Linked DNA regions of Homo sapiens: region 1 is linked to region 2. Evidence: fine-mapped expression QTL. Tissue or cell type: uterus. Region 2 holds a variant in brackets; the other region holds the start of a gene. All regions are shown on one strand. Distances are from middle to middle.

Region 1 (8,095 bases), 290 kb before region 2:
ATTTGGCCTCAGCCGGGCACGGTGAGCTGAGATTGCGCCACTGCACTCCAGCCTGGGCAACAAGAGCAAAACTCCGTCTCAAAAAAAAAAAAAAAAATTAGCTGGGTATGGTGGCGGGCACCTATAGGCCTCATTTTCCCCCATTCCTGTGAACTCCTTGGGCATTAGACTTCCTGAGTCCAGAGGTACAAAAACTTAAGATTAGATAAGTCCTAAAAGGTAGAAGTTGAACTGAGGGCATAAACAGATTGTGGGTAATATCCACTCACCTCCAACAAGAGCTGTAGGACCTTGGCTTGGTAGGCCCCAACTCTGCGACAGGCCCCCACCAGGGCAATGACTACCCCTGGGTGGCCCTGGGCCAATACAGCTTCCAAGACAGGGCTCAGCTCCTCAAACACAGGGGACAGCTGATGGGAAACATGGAATGTAACTCTGGCATTCTGGTAATGGCGGACCACATTATTCAGAGAAATCTTCCCAACGAAAACAACTAAAAATGCTAGATAAAACATAAAAAGCATTGCCAGTATCAGGACTTTTGTTTGGCTAGATAAGGCCCAGGATAAGGGGGCAGTCTTAGAGGTGCCACCTCACAGGAAGGAACTTTAAGTGGCTCTTCCCTATGTGTAAGGGAGCACTAGGAGCAAGGGGAGACTAAAATTAAACTGCACTTCCACTCTAACACCCAATGCATGAGACCACAGGGAAGCCCACCTTAGTCCTAAGCAGCAAAGGAAAAGAGAAGCTATGGCAACAGCTCTAGCACTCATGTGGGCTTATAGCCAAGTACCAGAGTCTGGGTGGGCCATGGAACCTCAAGCTGTAAACCTGAATAAAGCCAGTTTCTTGCTGGTCCTCATACCTGAGAGAAGTCAAAACAAATCCTCACTAGAAGGTGGGCACCTTTATCCTAAGCTCTGGAAAACCTCAAAGAATAGCTTTTCAAGGGCAATGGCCAGCACAATGTCAAAGGTATATAGAGGCAGACAGACCATAAAATAAGGTCCAGTGATCAAGAATTAGCAGAAACAGATCCAGCTCAGGTTTCCAACTCACCAGCTCAGGGGTAGTGACTGCATCCAGTAAGCGCTGCAAAGGGAAGTTGGCAATGGGATGTGCAGCCAGGGTCTGCAGCTGCCCCTGCAAGTGCTCCTCAAAGAGGCTCTGGAGTCTTGGGGGCTCCAACACCAGCAGGACCTGCTCCAGGAGTCTGGAACTCGTCTGATCTCGGAGAAATAGCAGTAGGGGACTAGGGACAAGAAGGGCATCAGGCAGTCTTAACTCCATTTCATGCAAAATACAGTTGCACTACATCACCTCATTCATTTCACACAGCCCCGCCAACTTGGGTCGATCCTGAGGCCCTGACCATACCTGCCATCTACTGAGGAACCGCGAGTACTCAGGTAGCCAATCACAGCATTGCAGAGATGAGCGCAAAACTGGGGAAGTTTGCGGTGTAAAACCTGTAAAGCCACTTGAAGACAGAAGCTGGAGATCTTATCAGTGATAAACACTGTGGAGAGAGGGCAGAAATAAAGCGGCTTTCCCAAAATCCAGACAACCTGCGTAACCTCAAACTTTAGGCAACAAGATACAGGGCACTATGGACACAAAGGGACTATACAAAGTGCTCTGAACGTCAAACCAGACCAGGTTTGAAAAGAAGAGGAATAACCTGAGGTAAGGGCCTTGCTTGGTGGTAAGATGACCTCCAGACAAGTAGATACGAGACCATCCTCCTACTTCCCTCCTTACCTGCAATGTCCTTCAGAAAGGAGGAGCTCAGGTCCTGAAGGCGATTCAAAAAGGTTTCAGGGACTTCAAAATCAGCTGGCTTACATTCCTGAGCTGGGGTCTTCTGTGCTTCTGAAGGAAGATTAAGAACATGTGCAGTGGGGAGATCACAAACTGCCATCCAGGAGAGAAAAATTTCACAGATGAACAAGGATTCCGCTTGGAGATGCAGAACAGATGTAGTACAACTAAATGTCTCTTCTGGATGACTGAACTGAGACTACATTTCTGTCTTAATTTTTCTAAGAAACTTCAACCAGCTTCCCCATGGTCCACAGAAGACAGTTCAACCTCCTCAGCCAGGTATTCAAGCCATTCCAAAATAAAGCCTCATTTAAACTCGCTAACTTTATTTCCTAGTTTTTCAAAATGTGGATCACAGCTCAAGACTGTACCATGAAATCAAGTTAGTGGTCTCAACTAGCATTTTTTTTAAATGAAATAGAGCAGAATAGTTTTGAAAAGGAAAAAAAAATAACAGAGTGGGCTGCATGTAGTAAGGGTATAGTTTCCTGAACTTTTGCTTGAGTCCAGTGTGTATGTTACTTTTGCTTAAGTCCATTTGTATATTAAGTCATGCTTAAAAAAAATTCTCCTCCTGCGTCCATTCTAATAGCCTTCCCCAAACACAACTGTACATCCCTACCTCTGGGCCTCCGCACACACTAATCTTTGGCTTGCTAAGCCCTGTTCAGATTAGGACAGGTCAAGCTAATTCTTCCCGGTCAAGCTCCCCCATGAAGACTTACTCTTCTGTTTACTGTCTCATTCTGAACTTTCTAAATTCTTCTTCCCCCTAGGTCCACTTTCCTCTTGTAATACTTACCAGATGATTGGGAACCACGGGGCCTGGCTCTCTCAGACTCCAGAATAGTCCCTCCTAACACCTGAAGCAGAGTTCTGACCACGAAGCTGCCATGTGTGTCTCCACAGTAGACAAGAAAATCATCACACACCTCAGCGGCTAGTCCCAGGACCAGCTCCTCCAGGGTCTCCGTGGGACCATCCTTTCCATCCTCCTCCTCCTCCTCCTCCTCCTCTGCAGCACTCCCCAGCAATCGAGGGAGCTGTAGCAAAGCACTTTGTAATACATGGACCCCGCATCGGTGACAGGCCACAGTGCGCAAGTTAGAGCGCAGAGCAGCCCACACGCGACAAAGCGGTTTCAAGGGACTGAATCCCAACAGTTCCTGCAGCATCTCACTGCCAGTCCTGTTCGTGGACAAAGCTAGGGCCTGAGTCTCTACTTCCTTCATTATATTGTGCACCATCAGATCTGAAAAGGGAAGAAAGACACACTTTGAAGAGACTTAGTAGAGAATACAGTTATGTACCCTCGCTTAACCAAGGGTCGTGGGTCGGAGGCCGAGGAAGAGGACATGGGAAATGAAACTAAGTCCCCACGCCCTGCCGACCCTAGAAAGTTTCCTTGCCTGCCCTGGATTTGATGCTCTTGGTCTAAACCCCGAAGTTGCTGCCTACCTCGTTCTTCCCCAGTCTCGGGAGCCTCTTTCAATGCTGACAGCGCCCGGCGGAAATATCCCAGAGCTTCCGGGCTCAGGTGCGGGTGCGAATCTGGAGCCGGCTCCGAGCGCCCATCCGGAGGCGGCCAGGGTTGCCGCTTACGGCCTGGTAAGGGGCGCCCCGACCCCTTGGCCCCGCGCCCCCGTTTGCCACCAGCTGGGAACCGGCGCCCCACCTTGTGTGGAGAGCGCGGACCCTGCCCCATGTGTGCTTCGCGACCTGTCCGGCTGCAAAAGCTTCCTTAACTGCGGACGGACCTTCGACGTCGCCAAGCGTGCGCCTTATCCAGACAAAGTTTAGAAACGCGGGCGCGCTCCTGACGCAGCTACTACGTCATAGTTCCGCGCCGCCCCAGCCGGGCGGGGTGGGTGTGTCACCCAGATCGCTCCGCCCCCATCCGCAGGTTCTAACTTTGGCCTGGGACTCTGCCCCTCTACCTCAGCACAGAATCGCCCCGGGTCCTACTACAGAATCAATCCTTGAACACTGCCTCCACGTCGCCGGCTCAATCTGGGCGAGAACCCAGACTTCCACCGCAGCCCCGCAATCTGCAGACCTCAGCGGCAGCGCAGGTGGCAGGTAAGCGGCGCACGCTCGTCCCACTTAGGGCTTAGGATCTCCAGGCTTCGCGCTCATCCCCGGCCCGGAAGCTGCGCCTCTGGCTCAGCCGGACTGGGTCAGGCCAGGGACCGGAGCTTCAGATAGCCCAGGACTCTGCGTGGACGCGCCCCGAGGGGCTGCCGCGCCAGATTCCCATATCCAGGCAGCCACACTCAGAGGGTTGTAGTAGTTGTCCACCTCTGGACAGTCCCACTCAGCCCCTTCTTCACTCTCTGGGCCTCCCAAAAGACAGTCAGCCTTGTCCTCAGGCCCGCACCCAGTTGTCAGCCTCTGACTCCTCTCCCCTCAAAGGATTCTTACCTTGGCTCCTCCTCTTAGCCCTAGTGAGGTTCTCCCCTACCCCCCAACCTCGCCCCAACACACACACAGTCTCCAGGCTTCCCTCAGAGTAAGTCTTTGCTTCCACAGACCTGCCTCCTTTGCCTGTGAGTCATGGCAGCTCCCATGAATGGCCAAGTGTGTGTGGTGACTGGTGCCTCCAGGGGTATTGGCCGTGGCATTGCCTTGCAGCTCTGCAAAGCAGGCGCCACAGTTTACATCACTGGCCGCCATCTGGACACCCTTCGCGTTGTTGCTCAGGAGGTGAGTGCTTCCTCTGGGACCACAGTTGCAGAAACCACCCGAGAGAGCCCTTCCACTTAACAGCTCCTTTCCTAATCCCTTACCTGAAACTATAATACTACTCAACAAGATGTGAATATTTATTCAAAGTGGAAATTAAAAACCCCGTAAATAACTTCAGGTAAGGTAGAATTTTGCCGCCAAGTGAGTTTTATGAAAAAACTTTGTGTTTGAGCCAGGCATGGTGGCACGTTCCTGCAGTCCCAGCAGCTACTCCGGAGGCTGAGGCAGGAGGATCGCTTGAGCCTAGGAGTTGAGCCATGATCACACCACTGCACTCCAGTCTAGACGACACAGCGAGACACTGTATTAAAAAAAAGAAAAGAAAGAAAAGTAAAAAACTTTTTGTTTGAGAGCAGAGATTTTGGAATTGCAACTAAAGGGTTGTGGACCTGTGCTTTCCTCTATTTCAGGCAAGACTTTATTGAACTGCACATTTTTTACTTATTTACTAGACTTCAGTTAAATAAATATTTGAGTATCCATGATTTGCTAGGCATTGGTAAACCACTGAAGTTACCAAGACTAATAAAATCTAATTTCTGCTCTTCAAAGATTCAGTCCATGGTGGAGTACAGTGGCTCATGCCTGTAGTCCCAGCACTTTGGGTGGCCAAGGCAGCAAGATCACTTGAGGCCAGCAGTTGGAGACCAGTCTGGGCAACATAGCTAGACCCAGTCTCTACAAAAAATATTTTTTAAATAATTAGCTAGGCACAGTGGCCTGCACCTGTAGTACCATCTACTTGGGAGGCTGAGGCAGGAGGATCGTTTGAGCCCAGGAGTTCGAGGTTGCAGTGAGCTATGATTGCACCACTGCACTCCAGCCTGGTGACAGTGAGACCCTGTCTCTAAAAAAAAAAATTTTAATTAAAAATGAAGATAGATTCCAACAGGAAGTCAGGTACAGAAAGCAGTCACTTCAATGTAATGTGAATATGGTAAATTATAAGAGGGAGATATGCACAGAATACTCTAGGGGTGTTGGGGAGCATCCAGATGACATAGGAGAGTGGCTAGGGAAAGTGGTTTGGGAAAGCGTCCTGGAGGAGGTAGGTGGTTCTTGAACTGAGTTTTGAAAGGTAAGAATTAGGTAAAGGAAGTTAGGAAAAGCATTCCAGCAGAGGGAGCTCCATAAGCATAGGGACGCTGTGTGAAAGAGTAGATGTGTGAGATAATGCAAGGGAAGAGTAGTGAGTGAGAGGCTGGAGAGGAAAGAGTGGGTCTTGGAAGACCCTAATAGAGAACTCAGGCTTCATCCTCTAAGAGATGGAGATCCAGTTAGGAGATTTTGAACAGGGTTTGTGTTTTAGATAGGTCGTACTGGCTGGATTATGAAGAATTAATTTAAGGCAGACAGACTGGAGGTCAGGTGAGTCGTTGGGAGGCATTGCAGTAGTTCAGGCAAGGAGGGTAATAGGCGGGGACCCAGAGCATAAATTTGGAGAATAGGAGGATTGTTCTTAGATAAAGGACTCTTCTTCCTCTGAAGTTGGAGGTTTGTGGGCATTTGTAGAGAGTGAGACAGAACAGGAAGTAGAAATCATTCATGGCTGATAGCTTTGGTTTTTTCAATTACCAACCAGGAGCATTGGTGGAGTGAGGGTAAGACAACTGGGACTGAGTAGAGGTTTTAGGTGAGTAGTGTAGGGTGGGAGCTAAGGGCATGAGAGATGGAAATGACCACAACAAGGAAAAGGATGCTTACTCATTTCTCAAGAGCAGACTCCATGCCTCACTTGTTCTTACCCTCTACTTGCAAAGTACAATGCTGTGCACATGGTGGGCCTCAGTAAATGTTTGTAGATTATTAAAACTTACATTGCAATTCACCTTGCTCTGTGGTGGGGAGGCCTATCATTCCTGAAACTACTCAAACAGACACCAGAGGGCAGCGTTGCCTGCCATGTTGCCTCTGCAGCAGGCTCTCCTAGGATTGATTGTCTTCTCAGTTCTCAAGCCCACTTTGGTTGGGGAGTTTTGTCATGACTCACACCCATGTGTGAATGTGAGCTCATATCCCCTGTCCTACTCCAGGCACAATCCCTCGGGGGCCAATGTGTGCCTGTGGTGTGCGATTCAAGCCAGGAGAGTGAAGTGCGAAGCCTGTTTGAGCAAGTGGATCGGGAACAGCAAGGGCGTCTAGATGTGCTGGTCAACAATGCTTATGCAGGGGTCCAGGTACCCTTTGAACTTTGTTCCCAACTCCACATTTCTGACCTCCCCCTCAGACCCCTGCATCTTCATCCCCACTCATTGTCCCTTCCATTACCCAGCCCCTCACACCTCCCTACCTTCAGATCATTCATCACCCTCCCTGTGCCTTCCAGACGATCCTGAACACCAGGAATAAGGCATTCTGGGAAACCCCTGCCTCCATGTGGGATGATATCAACAACGTCGGACTCAGGTGGGTGCTCCACTGCCAGGACCCATGTTCCCTCACTCACTTAGCCAACTCGACGGCCAGGCCTTTCCTTACATGCCCTCTCCTTTTCCCTCCGGCCTCCCCCATCTCTTTCTTCTCCCTTCCATTCCATTTGTCCCACTTACCTCTGGAGAAGTTCCATCCAGGTGAGTCTGTACCTGAGAATGTCAACTCTGTCAGTAATTTTCATTGGAACAAGCCCTTGGCCTCTCTCCTGTCTCACTCTCTGCCCATCCAAATGCAAGACCCAGAAGGGAGGAAGCCTCCTCCTCTCAGTAATGCGCACAGCCTGTAGTCTATACTTTCAAAATGGTTAGAGGGAGAAATTGTTTTATTTTAGACTGGGAGAAGCTTAAGAAGAAGGAGCGAACACCAATGCTGTTTAGTCTCCACATCCTCACTCCACACCCACAGGCAAGGGCACTGCCGGGTCAGAGTTGGGAGAGCAGGTACATCACTGGGTCACACAGGGTCATTTAGCCCAGGAGTGAGATGAAACACAGCATTTAGAATTCGCCTAGCATAATGCACACCAGTTATGCCTCTGTTACTGTTGGAATGATGTTACACTCTCATATAATCAAGTCATGCCTGATGGATGTGATCAGTCACCTGTGGGAGTAACCACGAGATTATCGGCAAATCTGTGACTAAAGCATGTAAGAACACCCACCGCTCCAATTTTGGTACTCTGGTAACAATCCCAAGGAAGCAGGATTAGAATGCAATTGTGATTTCCAAAGTGGAAGGAAGATCATTAGGACAGAGGAGGATGGTGAGGCCAAAGGCAAGAAAGGGACACGTTAAGAGCTGGAAATTGGCCAGTGTTCATGACCATAGCCTCCAAAGAGAGGTGCCTTCCACACCCTCATCTCTTGCTGGCCAGGGTTTTGACCCTGAAGCAGAGATTCAAGGCAGAGGCCCAGACCCTCGACCTTGGGCCCTGATGAATTATCCAAGGTAAAGGCCCCTTGATGAGCCCCTGACAGCCCCCCAGCACCTCCTGCCCACCCATTCCCCATGCGCATTTACTGCCTTTCCTCTGTATTACCTTGGGCTGCACTTTCCTTTAAAACTATAACTCTACTTGTTTTCATTTGGA
Region 2 (8,102 bases):
AAAATCCAAAAAAAAAAAAAAAAAAGAAATAGGGTATCCTTTTTAGGAGTGGCCACTGTAGAGCCTCCAAAACCCATTCCATTAACTGGGAAAACAGAAAAGCCTGTATGGGTAAATCAGTGGCCACTACCAAAGCAAAAACTGGAGGCCTTACACTTAGTGGCAAAGGAACAATTAGAAAAGGGAAACATTGAGCCTTCATTTTCACCTTGGCATTCTCCTGCGTTTGTAATTCAGAAAAAATCAGGCAGATGGTGCATCCTAACTGATTTGAGAGCCATCAATGCAGTAATTCAACCCATGGGGACTCTCCAACTTGGGCTGCTTTCTCCGGCCATGATCCCCAAAGATTGGCCTTTAATTATAATTGAGCTAAAGGATTGCGTTTTTACCATTCCTCTGGCAAAATAGGATTTAAAAAAATTTGCTTTTACTATACCAGCCATAAATAATAAAAAACCAGCCACCAGATTTCAGCGGAAAGTGTTGCCTCAGGGAATGCTTAATAGTCCAACTATTTGTCAGACTTTTGTAGCTCAAGTTCTTCAACCAGTTAGAGACAAGTTTTCAGACTGTTATATTATTCATTATGTTGATGATATTTTGAGTGCTGCAGAAACGAGAGACAAATTAATTGACTGTTACACATTTCTGCAGACAGAGGTTGCAAACGCAGGCCTGACAATAGCATCTGATAACATTCAGACCTCCACTCCTTTTCATTATTTGGGAAAGACCAACAGAGAAAAAAGAGAAACTGGGAAAGAAAGGAAGAGAGAAAGTGAGAAGAGAAATCAGAAAGAGAAAGGAGAGAAAACGGCAGATGTGGAGAGCCAGGGAGAAAAAGAAAAAGAAAAAGAGACTGAGTGTGAAGGAGAGAGGACACGGGATGACAGACAGAGAGAGAGAGAGAGAGAGAGAAAGAGAGGGAGAAAATGAGTAAGAGAGAGACTGGAAAAGACAGAGATCAGAGAAAGACACAGAAGGTGAGACTGGGGAAAAAAATAATGTAAAAGAGAAAGACAGAGATCAGAGAGAGACACAGAAAGTGAGACTGGGAAAAGAAATAGTGTAAAAGGAAGAAAAAGAGAAAAAGAGAGAGAGACCATAAGAGAAGGGAGACAATGAAACAAAAAGTGCGAGTGAGCAGGTGAGGAGAAAGATTGAAAACTATGAGAAACAACAACTAAGAGACAAAGGAGAAGGGAGACTGCCTGGGTGCCGGAGCACCCACACTGTCCTCTTGCCCCCATCACTTGGGTTAAAACCATTGGAAATTCCACTATTGCAAATTTTGTATTAATCCTTGTATGTCTGCCCTCTCTATTGTTAGTCTACAGGTGTATCCAGCAGTTCCAGAAAGACAGTGACCAGCAAAAACAGGCCATGGTGACAATGACAGTTTTGTCAAAAAGAAAAGGGGGATATGTAGGGAAAAGAAAGAGAGATCAGACTGTTACCGTGTCTATGTAGAAAGGGAAGACATAAGAGACTACATTTTGAAAAAGACCTGTACTTTAAATAATTGCTTTTCTGAGATGTTGTTAATTTTTAGCTTTGCCCCAGCCACTTTGACCCAACCACTTTGACCCAACCTGGAGCTCACAAGAACATGTGTTGTATGAAATCAAGGTTTAAGGGATCTAGGACTGTGTAGGACGTGCCTTGTTAACAAAATGTTTACAAGCAGTATACTTGGTAAAAGTCATCGCCATTCTCTAGTCTCAATAAACCAGGGGCACAGTGCACTGCAGAAAGCCGCAGGGACCTCTGCCCTTGAAAGCAGGGTATTGTCCAAGGTTTCTCCCCATGTGATAGTCTGAAATATGGCCTCCTGGGATGAGAAAGACCTGACTGTCCCCCAGCCCGACACCCATAAAGGGTCTGTGCTGCGGTGGGTTAGTAAAAAAGGAAGGCCTCTTGCAGTTGAGATAGAGGAAGGCCACTGTCTCCTGCCTGCTCCTGGGAACTAAAAGTCTCGGTATAAATCCCGATTGTACATTTGTTCAGTTCTGAGATGAGAGAAAAACCGCCCTATGGTGGGAGGCGAGACATGTTTGCAGCAATGCTGCCTCGTTATTCTTTACTCCACCGAGATGTTTGGGTGGAGAGAAACATAAATCTGGCTTACGTGCATGTCCAGTCATAGTACCTTCCCTTGAACTGAATTATTAGATTCTATTGCTCACGTTTGTTGCTGACCTTCTCCTTATTATCACCCTGCCCTCCTACTACATTCCTTTTTACTGAAATAATGACGATAATAATCAATAAAAACTGAGGGAACTCAGAGACCGGTGCCGGTGCAAGTCCTTGGTATGCTGAGCGCCGGTCCCCTGGGCTCACTGTTGTTTCTCTATACTTTGTCTCTGTGTCTTATTTCTCTTTCTCAGTCTCTCGTCCCACCTGACTAGAAATACCCACAGGTGTGGAGGGGCAAGCCACCCCTTCAAACAGTAGCAACCTGCTTGGGTCCCCTTCCACACTGTGGAAGCTTTGTTCTTTCGCTCTTTGCAATAAATCTTGCTGCCCCTCACTCTTTGGGTCCACACGGCCTTTATGAGCTGTAACACTCATCGTGAAGGTCTGCAGCTTCACTCCTGAGGCCAGTGAGGCCACGAACCCAGTGGGAGGAATGAACAACTCCGGATGGGAGGAACGAACAACTCCAGACATGCCGCCTTAAGAGCTGTAACACTCACTGTGAAGGTCCGCAGCTTCACTCCTGAAGCCAGCGAGACCACGAACCCACCAGAAGGAAAAAACTCTGAACGTGTCTGAACATCAGAAGGAACAAACTCCGGACACGCTGCCTTTAAGGACTGTAACACTCACTGCGAGGGTCCGTGGCTTCATTCTTGAAGTCAGTGAGACCAAGAACCCACCAATTCCAGACACACCTTCATTTTGAGCCTATGTGTGTCTTTGCACGTGAGATTGGGTCTCCTGAATACAGCACACCATATGGGTCTTGATTCTTTATCCAATTTGCCAGTCAGTGTCTTTTAATTGGGGCATTTATCCCATTTACATTGAAGGTTAGTATTGTTATATGTGAATTTGATCCTGTCATGACGTTAGCTGGTTATTTTGCCCATTAATTGATGCAGTTTCTTCATAGCATCAATGGTCTTTACAATTTCGTATGTTTTTGCAGTGGCTGGTACTGGTTGTTCCTTTCCATGTTTAGTGCTTCCTTCAGGAGCTCTTATTGTAAGGCAGGCCTGGTGGTGACAAACTCTCTCAGCATCTGCTTGTCTGTAAAGGATTTTATTTCTCCTTCACTTACGAAGCTTAGTTTGGCTGGATATGAAATTCTAGTTCCAAAAATCTTTTCTTTCAGAATGTTGAATATTGGTCCCGACTCTCTTCTGGTTTGTATGGTTTCTGCTGAGAGATCTGCTGTTAGTCTGATGGGCTTCCCTTTGTTGGTAACCCAACCTTTCTCTCTGGCTGCCCTTAACCTTGCTGAATCTGACAATTATGTGTCTTGGGGTTGCTCTTCTCAAGGAGTGTCTTTGTGATGTTCTCTGTATTTCCTGAATTTGAATGTTTCTTTTTTCTTTTCTTGTCTCTAATCTTGTGTTCTCACTTTATTTCATTAATTTTATATTCAATCACTGATATCCTTTCTTCCACTTGATTGAATCAGCTATTGAAGCTTGTGTATCCTTCATGAAGTTCTTGTACTGTGGTTATCAGCTCCATCAGGTCATTTAAGCTCTTCTCTAGATTCTTCATTCTAGTTAGCCATTCGTTTAACATTTTGTCAAGGTTTTTAGCTTCCTTGCAATGGGTTAGAACATGCTCCTTTAGCTGGGTGTAGTTTGTTATTACTGACCTTCTGAAGCTTACGTCTGTCAAGTCATCAAACTTATTCTCCATCCAGTTTTGTTCCCTTGCTGGTGAGGACTTGTATTCCTTTGGAAGAGAAGAGACGTTCTGATTTCTGGAAGTTTCAGCCTTTTTGCTCTGGTTTCTCTCCATCTTTGTGGTTTTATCTACCTTTGGTCTTTGATGTTGGTGACCTATGGATGGGGTTTTAGTGTGGATGTCCTTTCCTGTTCTGATGTTGATGCTGTCCTTTGCTGATGTTGATGCTATTCCTTTCTGTTTGTTAGTTTTCCTTCTAACAGGCCCCTCAGCTGCAGGTCTTTGGGGGTTTGCTGGAAGTCCATTCCAGACCTTATTTTCTTGGGTATCAGTAGAGGAGGCTGCAGAACAGCAAATATTGCTGCCTGATCCTTCTTCTGGAAGCTTTGTTCCACAGGGGCACCCACCTGTATGAGGTGTCTCTCTGCCCCTACTGGGCGGTGTTTTTCAGTCAAGCTACATGGGGGTCAGGGACCCACTTG[G/C]GGAGGCAGTCTGTCCGTTATCGGAGCACGAACTCCGTGCTGGGAGAACCACTGCTGTCTTTAGAGATGTCAGGCAAGGACACTGAAGTCTGCAGAAGCTGTCTGCTGCCTTTTGCTCAGATATGCCCTGGCCCCTGAGGTGGAATCTGGAGAGGCAGTAGGCCTTGCTGAGCTGCGGTGGGTTCCGCCCAGTTAGAGCTTCCCTGCAGCTTTGTTTACACTGTGATCATAGAACGCCTACTGAAGCCTTAGCAATGGAGGACTTCCCTCCCCCACGGCCCCGTTAATTGATGCAGTTTCCGCACCCCCCCCACGGCCCTCTCCACCCTACCTGTCAAGCTCCAGCTCCAGCGGAGGATGCTCCAGGGACAGCGATGTCAGGACTGAGATGCAGGGGCTGCCTTAGAGTCTGGATGCATGGGGTAGCGGGGTGTGAGGCACCGGGCCGGGGTGCAGGGCCGGAAGGAACGTGCTGGATCTGGGATGCTACCAGACGGGGCGTCCCAAAGACCGAGGCAGTCCCGTACCTTACAACTCTCAGATGAGCTCCACGGTGGGCTTGGCCACCGTGACCCCTACTGCCGAGGCTGCTGCAGAGGAGCCGCCGCCACCCACACCGCTGTGGAGCAGCCGCACATGCTAGACTCCGCTTCAGTAAAGCCCGGGCGGTGAGTGCCGCCGCAGAGGCGAGCCCGCTCCAGACAGTGGCGGTTGCGTGAGCGCCCCTCCCCCCACCGGGCTTTGGAGCGCGGGCTCCCACGCCGGCCCGGAGAGCTGCCCGACTGAGCATGCGCGTCGCGCTGCCGAGCCTCCTGAGAGCCCGCGGGCTGGCGCCGACCTTTCTTGCCGGCTCCGGCGTGAGAGGCCCGTCGGTGTGAGAGGCTCAGCGTGTGTCGCCCAGTGTCAGTGCCTTTGGGGCGGGGGACAGCGTCCCCACTTTCCTTCTACTGAATCCTCGGGCCCGTGGGCAGAACCCATTTCTTTTGTTTGTGGGCCTGGGTACCTTGCAGGGCCTTTCTCTATTCCCCACCGGCTCAGGACCCATCCAGCTTGTACTTGCTGACTCGGGAGGGAACTCGGGACGTAGGGCCATGCGGGGAGAGGACCTGGCCTGATCTGGGAGGCAAGGGGCGGGGAGGTGTTAGAGAGTTCATCCTTCCCCACTCTCTCCGGGCTCGCGCTGCCTCGGGGATTCCCGTGGCGTCCTGGGAGTTCCCGTGCCACCTTCCTTCCAGCTGGCAGCTCTGCAGACACCTCCACCCGTGAACATCACGCTCAAGTTCTGGAGACAGGGAGGAGGGCTGGGGGATCCAGAGATCCAGCCTGAATAGACTTCTGCTCTCTGCTCAGCTAAGCACCCAACACTGAGAAATGAACAGGTCAATTGGATTCAAAGCCGCGCAATCATCTGCATTTTATTTGCACCTCATTTGCAAGTTGTTAATTTGCAACTCTGCTCCTTCCACTCCAGGTTCCTTCTCTCCCATCACCCCTCAGATTCCCCAGTGGCCCAGGAAAAAATATCTTGGTCTTTGCCAAGGTAGACTCAGCCTTGTCAGCAGGCCTGTCCTGTGTTCTCAGGGGAGGCCTTTACCCAAGGCCACAACAACAGCAGGAATCCCGAGTAAGACGCCACCTTGACGGCAGGGAAGGCTGGATCTTTTCACAGGGCAGAACTGATTTGATGAGGTGAACAGTAAGGTGAGCAGAGGTGGGAAAGGCCAGTGGGTGAATGCAGGAACAGCACCAGGAGCTAGAGCCCAACTCTGGCCTGTGGGCTGTCTCCCGGTCCTCAGAGGCGGGACGGGGTTCCTCCACCCACCACCACTGTTTCCCCAGTGATGTAGCTGGCATCTTCAGAGCACAGGAAAGACACGATGCCAGCACAATCCTCTGGCTCGCCTAACCTGGGGAATAAGGGAAGCAAGGAAGGAGGTAAAAATCAAACGGGTCTGCCTCCCTCACCTGGGACACGGGGAGTTAAATTTGCTTAATCAAGAATTATCAGATGACTTTTCAGGATCAGTGTACAAGCTTTCTGCCTATCAAATAGGGTTACCACGAGGATATGCTGTTATAATTTAGTATAAGCATACTGTACTCTGCAAAACTATTACCCATAATATTCAAATACTATAGAAACACACCGGTTTTTAGAGAGCTCAGGACACCAAAATCCAAAGTTATATAGATAAAATGGTGAGCAATTAATTATTTCATACTTCAAAAAAATGGTTTCACATGTGCACACACTAAAGTATCAGGGAGTCTGTGTGACAGTAAATGGTGTGTTTAAAATGATTCCATTTGTACAGGTTCAGCTTAGAACTTTTTCAGGAATCTATACTTGTGCCTTAAAGTCATGTTCATTTAGTGAGAATGTGCTAATTCTTATTTTATCAGTGACTGCATAGTTAGGAGACACTTTAATCTCCCTGCCATAGAATGCTCTAGAGGTGGGCAGAGTGAGTAACTCAAACCTAGAAGGGCTGAATTAATGCTTCTCCATTCTACTTGTATCTTGCAATCATTTGAGAGGCTTAAACCAAAAAAGAAAAGAAAAGAAAAGACAAAGAAAAACAAAAGCCCAGATGGTCAAGTCCTACCTTGGACCAATTAAAAAGAATCTCTGGGAGTGGGTGGGGCCTGAGCACCTGCAGTTTAAAAAGCTCCCCAGGTGATTCTAATGTGAATCCAGTATTGAGCTACATGGGCTAGATCATTCATTGGTGCTCTAGGTTGACAATCCCCTCACTTATTAATGAGTTATGAACCAGGCCTGCAGCTCATGTCTCACATCAGAATGGCTTTGGGAAGATTTGGGATGTCTGGACGAGTACAGAGTTAGGCATTACTGGCATTTGTCCTTGAAGCCAGAAGGTAGAGAGAGGCAGGGAACTTAGAGGAAAGGGAGCCCGACAAAGGTGCTTGAACAGTTCACCCAGCTCACTGGGGAAGAAAGTAACTCCTTAGGCAAGGGGAGTTTGGGGCTTAGTAAAACTCTTCATTCTTTTCATTTGGATTGTAGATCATCAACCTGAGTTTTGTAAACATGTGTCATTATTCAAGGGGACTAACAAAGCATGGTTTTGGTTATGGTCCCTGGTCTCCATGGATGCTCAGAGGTGGAGGCAATCCCCCAGGTGGAGAGAGGACTCAGGGCTTCTCCGAGACCTCTGCACTGCTGAAACCCCGATGTCTCTGTGTTTACCTTTGGAAAGGGAAGCTGACTTCTTGCTCAGGTCACTGTAGTGATAGTGTTTATGAATTCGTGGTCTGTGAGGCAGAAGAGAGCCTGCCTGTGTTATCTGTGGGACTGAGACAGCGGGCTGTGGGCTGCTAGGGACCAGACCTTCCCATCTTCATGTCTCTTAGTGCCCTTGCCCTCATGACAGTTTACCTTCTTATCCGCAGGGTTTCTTTCATGCTTTCCTCTTTTTCCTTGTCCATCCAGAGCTGTAGGAAGAAGGGAAATCTCTTTATGTTTTTTTTTCTTTTCCTTTCTTTTTTTTTTTTTTTTTTTAGAGACGGAGTCTTGCTCTTTTGCCCAGGCCGGACTGTAGTGGCGCTATCTTGGCTCACTGCAAACTCCGCCTCCCGGGTTATGCCATTCTCCTGCCTCAGCCTCCCGAGTAGCTGGGATTACAGGCGCCCGCCACTGCGCCCGGCTAATTTTTTGTATTTTTAGTAGAGACGGGGTTTCACCGTGTTAGCCAAGATGGTCTCGACCTCCTGACCTCGTGATCT

Evidence for each region. PIP is the estimated chance that this variant, and not a neighbour inherited with it, causes the effect.
Region 1: DHRS1 starts here. The variant in region 2 is fine-mapped to the expression of DHRS1 in uterus (GTEx, PIP 0.98).

The regions. Positions count from the first base shown.
Region 1 is chr14:24,295,389-24,303,483 of GRCh38, reverse strand. DHRS1 (dehydrogenase/reductase 1) reads left to right here and starts at 3,704. Exons shown (of 9, transcript NM_001136050.3): 1 at 3,704-3,903; 2 at 4,354-4,527; 3 at 6,603-6,746; 4 at 6,896-6,975. The coding sequence starts at 4,378. NOP9 (NOP9 nucleolar protein) reads right to left here and starts at 3,634. Exons shown (of 10, transcript NM_174913.3): 1 at 3,283-3,634; 2 at 2,627-3,076; 3 at 1,762-1,872; 4 at 1,378-1,519; 5 at 1,060-1,252; 6 at 270-410. The coding sequence starts at 3,529. RefSeq lists an enhancer at 4,360-5,150.
Region 2 is chr14:24,004,046-24,012,147 of GRCh38, reverse strand. It overlaps DHRS4L2 (dehydrogenase/reductase 4 like 2), which reads right to left. Exons shown (of 8, transcript NM_198083.4): 7 at 7,756-7,811; 8 at 5,745-6,262. The coding sequence ends at 7,778. It also overlaps the pseudogene DHRS4L1. Among named protein-coding and RNA genes, the nearest start is that of DHRS4L2, 19 kb to the right of the region's middle. The variant G/C (reference allele first, on the strand shown) is at 4,356.